2 separate regions of the Homo sapiens genome follow, and region 1 is linked to region 2. Evidence: fine-mapped expression QTL. A gene starts in region 2. The other region holds a variant in brackets. All regions are shown on one strand. Distances are between the middles of the regions.

Region 1 (5,378 bases), 97 kb after region 2:
TATACCTAGAAGTGTAATGATTGAGCCATAAGATATGGGTACGTCCAGCTTTAATAGAAACTGCCAGTTTTCCATAGTGGCTGTGCCAGTGTGCACTCCTATCAGCCATGCATGGGAGTTCCAGTTGCTTCACAGCCTCATCAACACTTTTTCATTTTGGCCATTCTGGTAGGTGTGCACTGGTGTTGCGTTGTGGTTCCAAATTTCCCTGATGACTAAGTACAACACTTTCTCTAATGTACACTATTACATTTTGTGGTTATTTCATAATTTTCTTAAGCAGTTCCTCCATTGTACAGTATTTGTTATTTCTGCTTTTTTCATAGTTATAAACAATATTGTGACAAACATCTTTGTAGTTAAATATATTTCTAATTTTTTGAGGGTACATAGTAGGTGTATATATTAATATTCATGAGGTATATAGGATAATTTGATACAGGTATACAGTGTGTAATAATCGCATCATGAGTTTTTTAAATGGGTTAAAATAAATGTCTTTTTTAATCACCTCAAGCATTTATCCCTGTGTTATAAACAATCAAATTATACTCTTTTCACTATTTTTAAATGTACAATTAAATTATTATGGACTATAGTCACCCTGTTGTGCTATCAAATATTAGATCTCATTTATTCCTTCTAACTATTTTTTGGACCCATTGTAGTTAAATATTTTTGTACTTGCCTTATGATATATTTGAGGTAAATTCCTATAAGTGGTGCTACAGGGTCAAAAACAGTGATTATTCTCTTATGTCTTTGGAGATGCGTTGCCCTGAAGAAGGATGATATTGTTCACACCCCAACCAGCTCAGTAGAGACAAGTTTTTTCTCCAGTGTTAGACAGTGCAGGACTCAGCTATGAGGGTGTTTGGGCCCTCCAGGACTTTGAACATTTGTTCAACTAATGTTGGTGGCCAAGGAGTGCGGTACTTTTACAGTCCCTTCCTGTCCCCCAAGAATGCCTCCCATGCCTTGCAGGACAATAAGCCCTTTCCTCTCTTAGTGTTTGTCAGGATGAATTATCATGCCGTGACTGGTCCTTTTGGTCTCCTATGGCAGCAGTTCCCAATCTTTCTGGCACCAGGGAACAGTTTTGTGGAAGACAGTTTTTCCATGAACTGGGGTAGGGAGAAGGATGGTTACAGGATGAAACTGTTCCACCTTGGATCATCAGGCATTAGATTTTCATAAGGAGCGTGCAAACTAGATCCCTCACATGTGCAGTTCACAATAGGGTTTATGCTTCTGTAAGAATCTAATGCTGCCACTGATCTGACAGGAGGCGGAGCTGAAGTGGTAATGCTTGCTCACCTGCTGCTCACCTCCTCCTGTGCAGCCAGGTTCCTAACAGGCCACAGACTGGTACTGGTCCATGGCCTGAGGGTTGGAGACTCTTGTCCTAAGGGACATTTCTTATGACCTGCCTTTTTTGTGCCACTGTTACTCAATGCTGTGTAAGGTAGATAACAAAAGGCAATATATTACTATAGGATTCAGGGAGACCTGGATTCAAACCCTGGTTCTACCTCTTATTAGGGAAAAATTATTTAATCTTTCTGGGCCCCAGTATCTTCTCTAAATGGTAAATGCAGTTGTTTTGAAATAGGAAAAATTAAATGAGAAAAGTTCCTAGCCTGACTTTGCAAAAGAGGATGCTCAAATGGCCATAAAGTATATGAGAAGGGGCTCAACTGTTTTAATCATCAGGGAAATGTAAATTAAAACTAGTGACATACTATGACCCATCCAGAAAGGCTAAAATTAGAGACTGACATAATTGAAGTCAAAGAGAATAAAGAGTGACCAGAACCTTTATAAACTGCTGGTAGGGACATAATTGGTGGAACTGCCTTGGAAAACTGTTTTGAAGTTTCTACTGAAGCTAAACTTATGCCTAGTCCATGGCCAGCAACCCTACTCCTAGGAAAATACTCAATAGAAATATGTACATGTATATCCGAAAGACATGAACATAAATATTCCATAGCAGCGTTATTCATAATAACTCAAAACTAGAAACAACCTGTATCAACAGCAGAATTATTATGGTACATTTACACAGTGGAATACTATGCAGCAATAAAAAGGATAAGTTATACTGTGCATGGATGCATCTCACAGACATAATCTTGAGCAAGAGAAGCCAACATAAAAGAGTCTATATTATATGATTCCATTTATATGAAGGTCAAAAACCAGACAAATGACTTCATGTGGCCAGAGGCAAAAGAGTGGCTATCTTTGAGACAGGCAGTGACTAGAAAGGATCCTGAGGATCTTTCAGTCTCTGGAATGTTTTATATCTTGACCTGGGTGGGAATTACATGGGTATATACAAATGCAAGGGTTCATCAAGCTATAAACTAAATTTATGTGCTTTACTGCATGTCAGTTATACTGCAATAAAGAAGAAGTTAAAGGTACTTGG[T/C]CCAGTGATAAATAAACAGGAAATCATATTATTTCCACATACATTACACATTCCTTACCAGTATCAGCTGCAACTCTTGGCACACAGTGGTGTCTTAATATTTGTTCCTGTTTCTCTCTCTACCCCCTTGTGTTGGTGGCAGGATCTCCGTCTGTGATGAGGACAAATTTGGCCACAATGAATTTATTGGTGAGACCAGATTCTCCCTCAAGAAACTGAAGCCCAACCAGAGGAAGAATTTCAACATCTGCCTGGAGCGAGTGATTCCTGTGAGTGACTTTACCCTGAGGATCTGATGGGAGGAGGGGAGATTGGGGGAGCTGCCTTCCTCTGGGTCTGAATTGGGGGAAATAGATCCACGGGGTATTGGGTAGCAGAGGCACTGCAGCAGGTCTGCAGAGGAGAGTCAAGATTCCAGCTCACAACCTCAGGCTGCATTCTCTCTCTGCCTTTCACAAACCCTGTGTCAGCATCACTTCGAACATGAGTTCTTCTTGGCCAAACTGGATGGACAGCATGGCAGGGGCAGCATGGGCTTCCTGGGTTCAGAGCCAGCTCTGCCACTTGCTGCTCCATGGCCTTGGCCAAGGGGCTGAACCACTCCGAGCCTCGGTGTTCTTGTCTGTAATGTGGGTGTTATAACAGTACCTGCCTCTTGGGAGGGTTGTGTTTTAAAAAATAACATAATCAAAATAGAACTTAATGCATAGTAAGCACTCATAAATTAACAGTTGTTAGTGTAGGAAATATTGCTGCCTTACCCACCTGTCAGTCATGAAGTCAGAAAGCACCATGTAGATAAACAGCAGACAGCATAGCCTAGAGTTTAAGAGTATGGGCTCTGCAGCCAGACTCTCGGGTGTGAATCCTGGCTCTGCCACTTAGGGTATAACCTGAGGCAAATTATTTAATTTCTCTGGGCCTCAGATGTCTCATCTGTAAAATGGGATACTGTAGTACTAACCTCATAGGATCTTTTAAGGATTGAATGTGATAATACATATGAAGTATTAGAACTGTCATTGTTGTTGTCAGATGTGATTCTTGCTCTTTGAGAAAATAGCAAGGATCAAAGTGAGGTTCTGCAATGGGGTTGCACCTCAGAATTAACCGGGGGATTCTAAAACCAGAGCTTTACAAGCTAAGATTTGTGGGGGTCTCCCCTGGAGATTCTGTTTTAGTGGGGTAGGGTAGGACTCAACAATCTATATTTTTAGAGATAATTCAGGCTGCCTTGCCTTACGTATGGGCCAACTTGGGCCCAGAAAGGGTAGCAAGTCTCCAAGGTCTCTGGGCACTGGCCAGAGTCCAGCTCTCCTACAACACCAGCACCCCTGGTCTCTCTGGGCAGCCTGCCTGCTCTCCACAGGGAAGCTATGGGGTGCAGGAGCATCTTCCCACCAGATGGCCAGCCTGAGGATGGAATGTCTGCATGCCATGCCATAGTTTTATAGTTCAGGCAAAGGAACAAGACCAAACAAGGAAAATTTCAAGGAAGGATTTCCACTGAATTCCAGGCTCAGAATAAATCCTTAAAGACATCCCTAGGAATGAGGCCCTTCTTCTGGGCTTTTGCCTGGTGACAGCTGGGTCTTCAGGCTTCTCTTCCTTCTCCAACTCCGTGAGTCCAGTTGGCCAGGACAATGGCCAGGCCCTTGCCTGTGTCATCAGCCTTTGGGTCTTCCCATCTTGCTATGGTGAATGCAGCCAGCCCCAGAGACATGGAGGTGCAGGACACCCAGAGGGCTGCAGCAGCCGCAGAACACTACTGATCATCTTCTTTTGCTCTTTGCCATTAAACCTTAACCCTTGCACCACGAACTTCCCCCATTATGTCCCACTGAGGGCCCCTCCCCTCTGGACCTCAGGTTTCCTCCTCTCCAAAGTGGGGAGGTTGGATTTAACCAATGGTTTTCTAACTCTGTTTCCCAGAGCCTAGAGTTCAGCAAAAGGGCCCCAGGGGCCATGAAGGCAAAAGCACCTGGTGGGTCAGACCCCAAGACCCCTGAGCCACTTCAACCAGAGAAAATGAAATCTTGTCTGTTTGTGTGTGGAATGCTCTGACACTTATTGGCTGTGTGACCTTGGGTAAGGGGCTTAACTACTCGGACCCTCAGCATCCTCATTTGTAAAATTGGAATTGTAACAGAACCTATATCATAGGTTGTTACACATTCACATAGCTTGCCATATGGCTAAGTTTTATAAATTTTAGCTAAAAGGGAGAATGCAGGAGAGCCACAGTAGCTTAAGAACCCACTTTCATGGCTCTGGATGGTAATGGAAGTATGAGGGGTTTCTGGTCCTTCTTGCGCAGGAAGATGAGCTCCATAGACAATGTTATCTTTTATTTGTTTTCTTCTTTTAAGATGAAACGTGCTGGGACCACCGGGTCAGCCCGAGGCATGGCCCTTTATGAGGAAGAGGTGAGCACTGAGCAGGAATTGAAGCCACAGTCAGGGTCTGTACTGGGCTAGGCTAGCATCTTCCTCTTCTCTCCCTCCCTGGCCCCTTCCTCATCCATTCTCTTCCAACCACCCCCCTGTTGATTTGCCTTGAGAACAACCCTTTGCCCACAAGTGATGTCCTCTCCACACCTAAGCCTCTGAGGAGGGGGAAGCCCCTTTCTCTCATACCCAGGATGCCCACCAGGTTTTTGGCCTTGTTGTCAGAAGCTTTGTTGACAATTCTACTGACTAGGGCAATGGCACACTCCTTTCTTGGAGTAGATGCATTCTTTGAGCTGTGTGCATGGCAGAAACTGAACTAAGCCTTCATGCTGTCTGCCTGGGTCCCTCATATGACCCCAAGGACTGCCCTTTAAGAATACTGGTTGTGTTAAGGGAGTCTGAGATCAGAGGCAAGAATCTGTCTGGGGCCAGGGTCAAGGCTCAGTCCTGGGTTAGAGCCAAAGCCAATCAGTGACCCGGAGCAAGTTTAGTCT
Region 2 (5,378 bases):
CTTGTCTGCAAATGGGGCAGTAATAGCACCCACTTCAGGTAGCTGTGAAGTGTGGGGATAATCACTGTAAAGTGCTTAGTACAATGCGTGACACATGGCAAGTGTCTAGGTATGCAGCAGGTGGTAGCTATTGTCATTCCCTAAGGGAGAGCTGAATTCATGAGAGGCCCTCCCAGAATACATGCCTAATGGCTGGGGAAGCTGTGAGAAATTCTTTGGGATTGGAAGCCAAGAGGCCTGGGAACTACTTGGGTTCTGATTCCACCACCAGCATCCTAAATGACTTTCATTTCTCCCTGGGCTTCTTGAATCACTCTTCAAATGTTTATTGAGGCAGCCAGGTGTGGTGGCTCACACCTGTAATCCCAGCACTTTGGGAGGTCGACGTGGGCAGGTCGCTTGAGGTCAGGAGTTCGAGACCAGCCTGACCAACATGGCGAAACCCCGTCTCTACTAAAAATACAAAAATTAGCCAGGCGTGGGGCGCATACCTGTAGTCCCAGCTATTTGCATGGTTGAGGCATGAGAACGTCTTGAATCCAGGAGGTGGAGGTTGCGGTTAGGCGAGATCTCACCACTGCACTCCAGCCTGTGTGACAGAGCAAGACTCTGTCTCAAATAAAACAAACGATATTGTTTATTGAGGGTTTCCTATGTGCCTGGGACTGCCCTAGGCAATAGACCACAGGTCCTGGCATCTGAAAGGCTTGCATTCTATACTCAACTCTGCTACTTCCTAGCTCTTTGATTATGGACAAGTCAATTCTCGTCTCTGGTCCCGAGTTTCTCCATCTGTAAATTGAGGACACTGAATTTATGTCACAGGATCATCCCAGAAAATATTCGATGAAAATTTTCCCCTCAAACTTGTAGAATGCATTTGAAATGAACTCTGAGAGACATCCTGGAGCATGTTCTTTGGAATCATACGACACTGAGTTTGAATGCTGTGTCTGTAACTTACTGTGAAGCCTTGAGCAAGGAATTTTATTTCTTGAGTCTAAGTTTTCTCATTTGCAAGATGGGAATAATACTAGTGTCCTGAAAGGGTCATGGTGAGGACTTCAGAAGATGATACATGTAAAGTTCCTAGCAGAAGAGCTGGCACATAGTAGGTTTTCAATAGCAGCCATCATTGCCACCACCACCACCACCACCATAATCATCACCATCAACATCATCAGCATAATCATTGTCAATCAACACCATCACTATAATCATCACTATGATTACCATCATGATGACAATTACTACCACCACCACCACCACCACCACTGAGGCAGGTGGTTCATTTGAGGCGAGGAGTTCAAGACCAGCTGGGGCAATATAGTGAGACCCATCTCTGCAAAAAAAAAAAAAAAAAAAAAATTAGCAGGGTATATTCGTGTGCACCTTGAGTCCTAGCTACTGGACAGGCTGGGGTGGGAGGATCACTTAAGCCCAGGAGTTCAAGGTTTCAGTGAGCTATGATTGCACCACTGCGCTCCAGCTTGGGTGACAGAGTGAGACACTGTCTTTTTCTTTTTTTTTTTGAGATGGAGTTTCACTCTCGTTGCCCAGGTTGGAGTGTAATGGTGCAACCTCGGCTCACTGCAGCCTCTGCCTTCCAGGTTCATGTGATTCTCCTGCCTCCACCTCCCGAGTAGCTGGGATTACAGGTGCACACCACCATGCCCAGCTATTTTTTTGTATTTTTAGTAGAGATGGGGTTTCACCATGTTGGCCAGGCTGATCTCGAACTCCTGACCTTAGGTAATCCACCTGCCTCGGCCTCCCAAAGTGCTGGGATTACAGGCATGAGCCACCGCGCCTGGCAGAGACACTGTCTTTAAAAAATTGTTTTTTAAATGAGCTCTAAATGTTCTCATTTTAACTCCTGGGTCTCATGGGGAGAAGTAAGTGACAAATGTAGTAGTTAACCCTGGGCCATCTGGATGGGAAGCTTTAGATATGAGTCTCCAATAGAGAGAGTTCTCCTTCACTTTGCAGAGAAGTTCTAAGCAGATCTTGGTCTGTTTGAGATTTCCTGGCCTTTTTCCAATTTGAGCCCTTTCCCAAAGTTAGGAGGAATAGGACTCTTGAGATATGGAGCACTGGGAGCCATGGGAATCCATTCATCTTTATATATTTCCCCTTTTGATACTTTTATTTCATTGTCCATATAGTGAATTCACTTCAGAAAGCCAGTCTGGATCTTTCGGGGAAGGCTCTTTGGCCAAGGCTCAATGGTCTGATTTAGACCTAAAATTTCCCTTCATTCTACTCAAACCACCTGCTGAAGGGTGAGGTTGGCACATGCCATCCTAGCTGGGCTGTCAATTCCTTTATCACTCTGTCCAAACATTTGTGTTTTAGGACAGGTTATGGACCATGAAATCATGGCAGTTCACAGCTTGGGTATTCTTATTGTTGCATTTTAACCTCTTGCTTCCTATCTTTAGGAAAAATAAGGTCATTATGTTATCATTTTCACAGATGGGACTTGGAAACATTAAATGACTTTTCCAGAGTTGTAAGGGGGCTGGATCTGACTTCCAGAAAACCATCAAGTGCTTATTCAACTAAGCCACCCTGCCCCTTAGAAATTTCCATTTCTTAAGCCTCAGCTTTTCTGCTCTGAATTCTGAGAAACTCCAGGTACAGGTCAAAAATCTGCAGCAATGGGGGTGAGGACAGGTCATCTGGGCGAAACTTTGAGGGGCAAAACCACTTAGGGAGCCCCCCACACCGGTGCCAAGCTCTTGTCTGAGCAGAGAGGAGCAATGCAGGACTGGGGGCGTGTGGGAGACAGGGGCTGTGAAGTTATAGTTCCTTTGCTCTGAGAGTGAGCGACAGTATTAGAAAAAGTGTGTGGTAGGTAAGCTGTCACTGACTAGACTGTGTGATGTCGAGAAGTCCCGTCCCCCACCCCTCCGGACTCCCCCCTTCTCTGCTTTAACCATCCAATTACTTAACTTCTCTGCCTAGGGGTTCGCTTCCCACCCATCCCCTCCTCCAAGGCATCTTAGCGCTGTCCGTGGTGCTGACCGCCAATCCCCTGGTTGCCGTTTCGACCAGCTGGGATCTCTGGTGCGCCCAACCTCCCCTCCCGGCCTCCCACCTTTCTTTCTCCAGGCACCGCACACATAAATCACGGGTGGGAGGCAGGCTTGGTTCCCGCTTGGTTCCCCCTGCACTGGGAAGCTGCCGCCCCGCTTCCCTTGCTCACACAGGGCTTTGCAGTAGTGGTGGCAGCCGCGGCAGAAACTGGCTCTGGGGAAGCAATTGATTCGTCTACTGCCAGCAGCCCGGAGTTGCCTACGCGGACTGGAAAGGAAGGGAGAAGGGAGAGAGAGAGAGAGAGAGAGAGAGAGAGAGAGAGAGACTCACAGAGCTAAAACCTTCATCCATGTGGAGGACAGTCTGAGGGAGCCACTGTCCCTTGTCCACTGACTCACTGGCTGGTCCGAGTTTTCTCCGCTTCTGGCAGTGGTATTTCTTTTTGTCTTGGTCCTGCATGATTTAGGGGTAGTTGATGTGTCTGTGTGTCTACGTGTGTGCACTGGTGCTTTGATTTTATTTTGGGAAGAGTAGGAGAGTCAAATGAACAATTTTCTTTCAGGCACCTCCGCTGAGCTTTTAAACCAAGTCATTGGGACTTAGCGTCTTTCTACCCGGCAGGGAAGGGAGGAGTTGGCAAGAATTTGGCTCACCCATTCCCCCTGCAAGCCTCCAGCGTCGCGGTAAGTGATATTCTCCCGGGTTGTGCAGATGGGCTAGGGGTGTTGGAATCCCAATTGTGATGTGTGTTCATGAGCTGGTGGGGTAAAGGGTAGTTGGGAGGAGAAGGGTATCGAGGAACGACTATGCTTATTTGCCTACATCCTGCAGTGTTTTATCACCTAAGCGGCATCCCAAAGCCAAATGAGATTTTGGCTTAGTGCCCAGGGAGGGGGTAAAATGTGCTCATGTTGTAGGCAATGCGATCAAGATTGTGGCTTCTGCCCAATTTGCCCTCTCCTTTGCAGCAGAAGCTGGTGAAAGTAGCCGGCAGTTCTCTGAGAGAGTTAACCCTTCGTGGGGCTGGCTAGTCTAGCATGGAGGGACTCTGGGTACTCTGACTTAGCAAGTGAGTGCTTATCCCTGGAGGGGAGGGGGTCACCTGAGACTGGAAGGGTAACTTTTGCCTGGGCACACTGGGTAAGATTTGCACAGGACAGAGCTTAGATTGTACCCTCTTCTAGGAACAGCTGAGTAATTTAATTGTGGTGATTTTTGCGAGGTTGGCTGTTCACGCTTTCCTGAGATGGAAGACCTGGGAGCCAGGAAAGGGCCACACTATGCCTGGGATGAGTGGTCAGGCTGGCCAGAAGGGAGCAGCCACTGCCTGCAGAGGAGATGATGTTTTATTTTCACAGGTGGCGTAACCTGTAAGTGATTGTATGGGGGAGCGTCCTGGCACTAGCTTGGGAGATTCTATCCTTGAGTTCATCTCAGAAGGAAGGAGGGGAACAAAGCTTGTTCAAATTCTGGGGAAAGATTCCAGGCTTCAGCTTCAGTTTTGTTCCAGGGTAGACCGTCCCCCTGCACTAGTTTCTTTTTCCAAGATCCTGATGGGGAAAGGCTGCACCAACCTGTTAGTGAGTGGGAAGTGGAAGTACCTTGAAATTGAATCCAAAAGCTCACATTTAATTTTGAAATGCTTTTGATGCTAATCTGCTACCCATCAAAAGGGGATTTCACTTTGCTTTCTGCTTTGATTACATCTACTTTTCTGGAAATGAATGCCCTTGTTTTTAGCATTTTTGCTATTATCTCAGGGGCCACCTCAGTGTTCTGCACCCCCAAGGATTTCCTTTTTAGATTCTTGCTCTTGGAGGTGGGAGGAATAAAACAACAGTCAGAGATTGGCAAGCCTGAAATATAAGCAGGGTTCACTCATTCTTTTTTTCTCTAGCCCCATAGCTAAGAAGAGATGCTGAAATCCCACAGCATGTGCCTGCTCAGGCAGGACATATGAGGCAGAAGAGGAGGGTTGTCTGGTGGTTAGTGTCAAAGATTTGGTTCTCAAAATCCCTAACTTCTCTTCCTAGCTTCTCTTGCTGGGTGACCTTGAGGAGGAAGTTGCCTTAGATTCCTCACTGGGAAGACTTGAGTGTGAATAATGAATGTGTGGAAATTTTGTTCAAAAAAAGAACCACATATCTGGCTATGGGTGATATTTAAAGTATTGAAATTTGGTACTAATCGATCAGAATGGCTAGGGTCCTGGAATAGGGCATCTTAGGGGGCCCCTGCTGTACTGAGTGTTAATCTTTTAATTGCTGGATTATGGAGAGGTTTGGGGGGATCTTAGGGGGCTATCAAGAGAGCCACGAGGCCTCAGGGCAGCATCCCCA

What was found. PIP is the estimated chance that this variant, and not a neighbour inherited with it, causes the effect.
Region 1: its variant is fine-mapped to the expression of RPH3A in whole blood (TOPMed, PIP above 0.99).

The regions. Positions count from the first base shown.
Region 1 is chr12:112,885,221-112,890,598 of GRCh38, forward strand. RPH3A (rabphilin 3A) reads left to right here. Exons shown (of 22, transcript NM_001143854.2): 17 at 2,577-2,703; 18 at 4,804-4,860. Among named protein-coding and RNA genes, the nearest start is that of OAS1, 19 kb to the right of the region's middle. The variant T/C (reference allele first, on the strand shown) is at 2,435.
Region 2 is chr12:112,788,542-112,793,919 of GRCh38, forward strand. It overlaps RPH3A (rabphilin 3A), which reads left to right and starts at 3,207. Exons shown (of 22, transcript NM_001143854.2): 1 at 3,207-3,471; 2 at 3,602-3,722. RefSeq lists an enhancer at 3,299-3,840.